Linked DNA regions of Homo sapiens. The protein of the gene in region 1 purifies or fractionates together with the protein of each later gene. This does not show direct contact. Each region holds a gene or a part of one and is shown on either strand. Other genes may lie near its edges.

Region 1 (3,983 bases):
CAAGGAACCAATGCATAGTGAGGGGGGAATCTCTTTTCTTACATGACCTGCAATAGTCATGGTCACTTAGGCTACTGGTCCCTCTGCACAAGGATCTTCTCTTGTGAGAGGCCAGGCCCAACTTTGCCCTCCCAGCCTTGTCAGCTCTGACCTTGACCAGGAAGTCGCCTATCTGAAGTGAACTCAGGATCTCGCACATGATCTTCAGGCACTCTGCATCAGGGATCATGGGATCAAAGTTCCCAGCAATGTCAAAATCCTGCAGGGAGAGGGTTAGCCAGCGGTCTTCAGGGATTCACCTTTCTGAAGGGGGGACTCTGGGAGCTCTGTCCTCTAGGAAGGCCTGGTTGCACTCAAGCATAGAATTTCTCTTTCATTTTCTGATCATCAGCCCAGAGGTAAACCCCGGCATCTTTGGGCTTCTCACCAGTTTTGGTTTCCTTTCCATCTACTGGGCTATTCCTTCATTTTCTACTTCATCATCTTCTTAACTCCTCCTACTGGATGGGGTGATTATATGGCTTTAGTGCTTAGCCATTTTCCCTATTCATCCAGAAGCCCTGGCATCAGTCTGGATGATTTGATGTATCAAAGCTAATTTCCTTATTCTCTGCTGTGATCCTATCACTGTGGTTTAAAATAAAGAGCACTGGACCAAGAGTTCTAGTCCTGACTTTGCCTTTCTTATCCCTATGATCTCTTCATGGGCTGGGTATCAAGTTTACTCATATGTAAAATGAAGAGACTTTATTCTCCTCCCCCACCACAGGGATTTTGTGAAATCTGCATGAAAACACCATAGAAGAGGCTGGGTGCGGTGGCTCACGCCTGTAATCCCAGCACTTTGGGAGGCCGAGGCAGGCGGATCATGAGACCAGGAGTTCGAGACCAGCCTGGCCAACATGGTAAAACCCCGTCTCTACTAAAAATACAAAAAATTAGCCGGGCATAGTGGCAGGCGCCTGTAATCCCAGCTACTCAGGTGGCTGAGGCAGAAGAATCGTTTGAACCCAGGAGGCAGAGGTTGCAGTGAGCCAAGACTGCACCACTGCACTCCAGCTTGGGCAACAGAGCGAGACTCCGTCTCAAAAAAACAAAAAACAAACAAAAAAACCACCATAGAAACCCTAAGAGCATTATCTGGGTCATCCAATTTGCTCAGGACACCGTGAGTACTCAATAGATTCTGCTGGCTTGAGAGAGCCCCAAGTAACTCATCCTGCCCCACGGTTTCCCAACACTCACACACTGGTAGAATTCCCGGTATCGGCCACGGGTCATGGCTGGGTTATCCCGCCGATATACCTTTGCTATGTGGTAGCGTTTAATGTTGGTCAGTTTATTCATTGCCAAATACCGAGCAAAAGGAACCTGATGACAAAGAGTTAAGGAGAAAGCCCCTCCTATCACTGTCTGCAAGTTGATTATCATCACCAACAGAAGCTGGGGTCTAACCCCTCCCTATGTGGGTAAAACTGCCACCCATAAGATTAATAGCACTTACAAACATCAGAAAGCATCAGCTGTGCTACCACATGAGGTAGCTGAAGGCTCAAAAAAGATTAAGGCACCTTTCCCTTTTGTAGTGTTGACTGGACTTTTTTGAGCATGGCAAGGGGCTGGGCAGGTTGGCCACAGACCAGAAAAAGGCGACCAGAAAAAGGCCCCCATATGGGATTTCTAAGCAGATGATTCTCTGTGTAGCTTGGAGACAAGGGAAATGTGTTGCTAGTCCATTAAGAAGAATTTTGTTCACTGGACAGGGCAGGGGAGAGGTATTCTGGAGCCAGGGGATGACTGTAGAGTTGGAACTGGGCCCTGACATCAAGCTGAGGTCTCACTCAGGATTCAGAAGATTTCTAAGGATGTGTATGCTCTGTTTAGCCAAAGTTCCACTCCTGGTTTAGAGAAATAATTCCCCTAATCGCCAAAGGCCTCATATTTGATCCTACCTACTCTACCATTCTTAAACCTGAGCCAAGTGAGTGCCAATCCATCCAAAGTCTCAAGAGCCCAAGTTTAGAAAGATACAGTGAGGTCATAGCGAAGGGACAGGAGCTCCCCGCCCTGGTCCTTCAGGTCATAGATAAGCTTGGAGTCTTCCCCATACTTTCCCATCAGTGTTTCCTGGAGAAAACATAAATAAATGTGGTCATAATAATAAACATAACAATTTAAAAGGAAGTTTTGAAAACAAACATGACTGATTCCAACTTGTCTACATTTCCCTCTGCTCTTTATCCCAATTCTTAGGTGTCTGATGTAGTTATCATTAAAAGGAAACACCAATTTTGTGTTTTTTTCTATTTTGATTTTGTAACAGAGCTGAAGTATTTTTCTTACACATTTTCCTCTTAAAAATCTTTTTTTTCTTCAGACTTCTCAGCATGAAGTTTGTTTTTTTTTTTTGAAATGGAGTCTCGCTCTGTCACCAGGCTGGAGTGCAGTGGCGTGATCTCGGCTCACTGCAACCTCTGACTCCGGGGTTCAAGAGATTCTCCTGCCTCAGCCTCCAGAGTGGCTGCGACTACAGGCGGGTGCCACCATGCCCGGCTAAGTTTTGTATTTTTAGTAGAGACAGGGTTTCACCATGTTGGCCAGGATAGTCTCGATCTCTTGACCTCGTGATCTGCCCGCTTCAGCCTCCCAAAGTACTGGGATTACAAGTGCGAGCCACAGCGCCCGGCCTGAAGTGTTTTTAAAAGATGCATAAATTCCAGTGAGAAGAAGCTCTGTACTTACTTCCTCCCTCATGTTATACTGTTAGGTGTTTAGGTTATTCTAATTTAAAAAAAAATTTTTTTAGGCCAGGCATAGCGGCTCACGCCTGTAATCCCAGCACTTTGGGAGGCCAAGGCGGATGGATCACCTGAGGTCAGGAGTTCGTGACCAGCCTGGCCAACATGGTGAAACCCTGTCTCTACTAAAAATACAAAATTAGCTGGGGGAGCTGGTAGGCATCTAATCCCAGCTATTCGGAGGCTTAGGCAGGAGAATCGCTTGAACCCGGGAGGCAGAGGGTGCAGTGAGCAGAGATCGCACCATTGCACTCCAGCCTGGGTGACGAGAGTGAAACTCTGTCTCAAAAAAAAAAAAATTCCCCATAACATTTCAATATCTAATATTTAGGTATATAGCTCTTTTTTTTTTTAAAAAAAAGTATTTTTCTTGATGATAAACTACTAGGAATAGGTTATCAGACCAATAAACATAAATGTTTTTTGATGCCTGAGATTCGAATAATGTCAAAAGTAAAAACTGGGGAATGTCTTAAGGGCATTACAGCAGTCCTTGCCCTGTGATGTCTATCATCGGTAATAGCATATTTCACTTACCAGGTTGGCAAAGATTAAAAAGCCTGAAACTTCCCAGTATGCAGTATCAGAAACAGTAACACACTAGTGTTACGGGCTGAACTGTGTCCCCCTGGCCCCACCCTCCCCAATTCATTTGTTTAAGTCCTAACTCCCAGTAACCTCTGAACATGTCTACATTTGGTGATAGGGTCTTTAAAGAGATGATTAAGCTAACATGAGGTCTCCAAGTTGGGCTCTGATCCAATATGTTGTTGTAAGAAGAGAAAATTTAGATAGGGACAGAGGGAAGACGATGTAAAGACAAAGGGAGGCTGGGCGCGGTGGCTCATGCCTGTAATTCCAGCACTTTGGGAGGCTGGGGTGGGCGAATCACTGGAGGCCAGGAATTCAAGACCACCAACCTGGTCAACATGGTGAAACCTCGTCTCTACTAAAAATAGAAAAATTAGCCAGGTGTGGTGGCACACGTGTTGTAATCCCAGCTACTTAGGAGACTGAGGCAGGAGAATCGCTTGAACCTGGGAGGTGGAGTTGCAGTGAGATGAGATGGTGCCACTGCACTCCAGCCCAGGCAACAGAGCGAGACTCTGTCTCAATTAAAAAAAAAACAAAGGGAGATGATGGCCATCTACAAGCCATGGAGAGAGGCCTGGAACAGATCCTTCC
Region 2 (3,983 bases), 400 kb from region 1:
AAAGTTTGTTCTTCCTTTCCCTGAAGCAAGAATTGTGAACATAAAGTCATAAAACAGTTTCAGTGTTAATTTTTAAAACTTCTCCATATTTCCACCCTCATCAGTGGTAAATAATGTGCCTGATGTAAAATGGAAAAAGTTGAAAATTTCCACTTGTACATTTTGAGCTTTTCAGAGGTACTATATACACTCTGGAAATAATAATAAAAGATACTAAGGCTTATACAGTGCTTTTTGTTTGAGGAACTCATATAAACACTAATGCATTGATCCTAACACAGTGCTTGATTGTGACTTTAAAAGGTCATGAGTTACTGCTGTTACAAAAAAAAAAAAAAAATGGAGGGGCGCTCCACTTTACAAATATAGTTTAAAAAATATCTAGATAAAAATTGAAACAGATAACTGAAAAAACAAAACTTATAGGGTATTTGTTTGTATGTTGACTTTTCTCTTAGCGTATGATATATTTTTATTCCTTTATTATTTTTTCTTTTACATATGAATCTACTTGAAGCCTGATTTTCTTTTCTTTTTTTTTTTTTTTTTAATGTTTTTAAGACAGGATCTTGCTCTGTTACCCAAGCTGGAGTGCAGTAGCACAATCATGGCTCACTACAGCTTTGATATCTCAGTCTCAATTGATCCTCCCACCTCAGCCTCCCTAGTAGCTGGGACTACAGGCGTGTGCCACTGTGCCTGACTAATATTTTAAATTTATTTTTTGTAGAGATGGGTCTCATCATGTTGCCTGGGCTAGTCTTGAACTCCCAGGCTCAAGCAGTCCTCCTGCCTCGGCCTCTCAGAGTGCTGGGATTACAGGTGTGAGCCACTGTGCCCAACTCCCGCAACCCCCCCGCTTTTTTTTTTAATGAGACAGGGTCTTGCTATGTTGCCCAGACTAGACTCAGACACCTGGGCTCAAACAATCCTCCCACCTCAGCCTCCTGAGTATCTGGGACTGTAGGCCCACACCACTGTTCCCTGCCTGATTCCTATATTAAATAAGAAAGCAGAATCTACTTTTAAGCCTTTATTCCTTCTCAGCCAAGAAGGTTTAAACTTCTGGTGGTTTCCTGAGCTTGACGTATTATGTTAATATGCATTTGTCCTTTTAATTTGCTCAGTTTAATATTTGTAGTATGTAGCTATTGATTTCGATGAATTCAATAGTCATGTGGCTTAATTTTCAACTTTCTTGTGTTTCATAGGTTTATTCTTCAGTCCAAGGAAGCAATTCACAGTCAGCTGTTAGAGAAGCAGAAAATAGCAGAAGAAAAAATTAAAGAACTAGAAGTAAGTTTTTATTGGCAATAGGAGTTAACTTTTGGGAGAAAGTAGTAATCTTATTGTGTCATATTAAATGAAAATGTATGCCTGCCTGCCAAAGTAATGTCATATTATTTTTATTTTCTATAATTACGTTGGAGCCGTGAAGCTGTCATATTCATATTCATAGCGCATATAAGACCAAAACAAAAAAAAAAGAATAGTCTCTTCTTTGGAACTGCAGAGAATTTTGATGAGATGGTTTTAACCTGAATGTATTTTGTTCATTGCCCTTGAATGTGTTTATTCTTTAAAAAAAACAAAACCATAAACAAAATGTAATGTATATTTAAACAACACTTGTGTAGTGGATTGTGGTGGATGGGCAGGAGAGTGGGTAATAATGATAAATTTTAGAGGATCTTGGTATAGGGTCTTTTTTACACATTGTAATTTCTTTAACCTAAATTAGGTTCTATATAAGGACAAAGTAGCAAGCTATAACCAATTAACTATCTGAAGGATGGTGCTCCAATGAGAACAATTTTTTCTTTTTAGCTAGGGAAAAAGATGATAGGTAACAGTAAGCAAATCTTTGGAAATATTACTTTATTATTTTTATTATTATAATTTATTTATACATTAAGACCTTTAGTGAGATATTCTTCTTGGGCTTTGGTGAAAGGCCCATCCTGTGTATAGTAAAAGTTAGACTGGACAAAAAGCTGGTTATTTCTTAGGGACCAAGATTTCCCAACATGTGGGTGGATACATTGACTTCATAGGTCATTTCATCTAATTTCTGTAAGTACTATTTGAGGCAGAGGATCAGAATCTAACTCAGCCCTCTGCTGAATTTGGGAGCTACAACTTGTAGCCTCCTGAGGATTTCTTAGGGGCACTGAATTGGCCTGGCCTGGGAGTATGCAGTATCTTAGGTTACTTAGGCTTATTTTTAACTACTGATAGTTGAAACAAACTTGATAATAGATTTGCAGCTTAGAAAAGTGTATTGTAAAAACAAGACAAAAAAGCAAAAAAACCAAGTAAAGAAAAAACAGCCTGTGATAACCAGATTGTTGTTGTGTCCTATTTTAACATTTTAATCAGCTCAACTGTTCTAAGAGGTTCAGTTTGATATCTGTGTTTTCACTCATAAGAAACAAAAGTATCTTTAAAAACCCAAACAGAATCATTTCATGTAGATAAAACAAAATGCATTTTTGCAACTGTAGGTAAATATATTTAAAATTATCCTAATGAATAATAAGTAGCAAGGTAATATGTATATAATTCTCTTTATGAAAACAAAAAACAAACATTTGTGTATGAATATTGAAGATGATATGTAAGGATATATATTAAATTGTTAATACTGTTTACCCTAAAGAAATTAGATGGGACGTAGGGATAAATGATTTTTTCTTTTTCTTTCTTTCTTTTCTTTTCTTTTCTTTTTTTGTTTTTTTTTTTTTTTTTTGAGACGGAGTTTCGCTCTTGTTGCCCAGGCTGAAGTGCAATGGTGTGATCTCGGCTCACTGCTACCTCCGCCTCCTGGCTTCAAGCGATTCTCCTGTCTCAGCTTCCCAAGTAGCTGGGATTACAGGCATGCGCCACCACGCCCTGCTAATTTTGTGTTTTTAGTAGAGATGGGATTTCTCCTTGTTGGTCAGGCTGGTCTCGAACTCCCGACCTCAGATGATCTGCCTGCCTCGGCCTCCCAAGTGCTGGGAATCATAGGCCACTGCGCCTGGCCTTGATTTTTTTCTTACAATCTCTGTAATAATAAATTATAACAAGTATACATTAACTTTTTTTGTTGTTAACTTTCATGATTAAAAAATTAGCAGAGTGGGCACAGTGGCAAATGCTTGTAGTCCCAGCTACGGGAGGCTGAAGCGGGAGGATTGCCTGAGGCATTCCAGCCTGCGCAACATAACAAGACCTTGTCTCTTTAGGGAAAAAAAAAAACACAAAAACCCCAATTATCAAGGTGAAATTGCCACAGGTGATGATTTTATCAATACCGTACTGCTGAGTTCTGGTGAATATTAAGAAATTTACTTTCTGCAAGTTTCCTTTTGTTGAGTGTCTCAAATACTGGTAGAATGTTTTATCTTTTAGGAAGTTCTTTTTTCTTTTTTAATTTTTCATTTTACATGTTACTTACATTATAAAAGCAATAGAAGTACACCATAAATAAAATATAAAACAAATGATTAAACAATGAAAATATTACTTTGTTTTTCCACCCTCGGTACATCCAAATGTCACCTCTACGGTTTCTGTATCATTCCAAACTTCTATATTTATATCAAGACATTCATACATGCATATATATACACAACCTTTTTTTAAAATAGGAATTATGCTATATATACTGTTTTCCATCATTTGACAGTTTATCTTGCTACTTTAGTAATATAACTCCAGTTTATATACAATTTCTTTTTTTGATTCCCATCATCATGGGCTCCTTACCATGAGCCTTATTTCAGCATTTAATATGTTCTCCAGTACTTCCCTAATCTGTGCTTTTAACAGTATCACCCAGTGTATACTCCCCTCTCTTCTCTGAAACAATCCTATACTTTTCCACTGCTACAACTTTATGGTTTTATTACTTCAGCACACCCCCACATGTGCACTTATGCACATATACACTGTTAATTGTGATGTTCAAATTTTGTGTGTATCTTACTGAATTATCATCT

Evidence for each region. The genes of interacting proteins can lie anywhere in the genome.
Region 2: the proteins of HARS1 (region 1) and PFDN1 fractionate together in Homo sapiens (co-fractionation; one large-scale study listed by BioGRID). This does not show direct contact.

Annotation. Positions count from the first base shown.
Region 1 is NC_000005.10:140,677,757-140,681,739, forward strand, and holds part of HARS1 (histidine--tRNA ligase, cytoplasmic), read right to left. Parts: intron 2,128-3,983; coding exon 2,032-2,127; intron 1,372-2,031; coding exon 1,246-1,371; intron 260-1,245; coding exon 152-259; intron 1-151. UniProt on the Homo sapiens protein: Catalyzes the ATP-dependent ligation of histidine to the 3'-end of its cognate tRNA, via the formation of an aminoacyl-adenylate intermediate (His-AMP). Plays a role in axon guidance.
Region 2 is NC_000005.10:140,278,762-140,282,744, reverse strand, and holds part of PFDN1 (prefoldin subunit 1), read left to right. Parts: intron 1-1,211; coding exon 1,212-1,296; intron 1,297-3,983. UniProt on the Homo sapiens protein: Binds specifically to cytosolic chaperonin (c-CPN) and transfers target proteins to it. Binds to nascent polypeptide chain and promotes folding in an environment in which there are many competing pathways for nonnative proteins.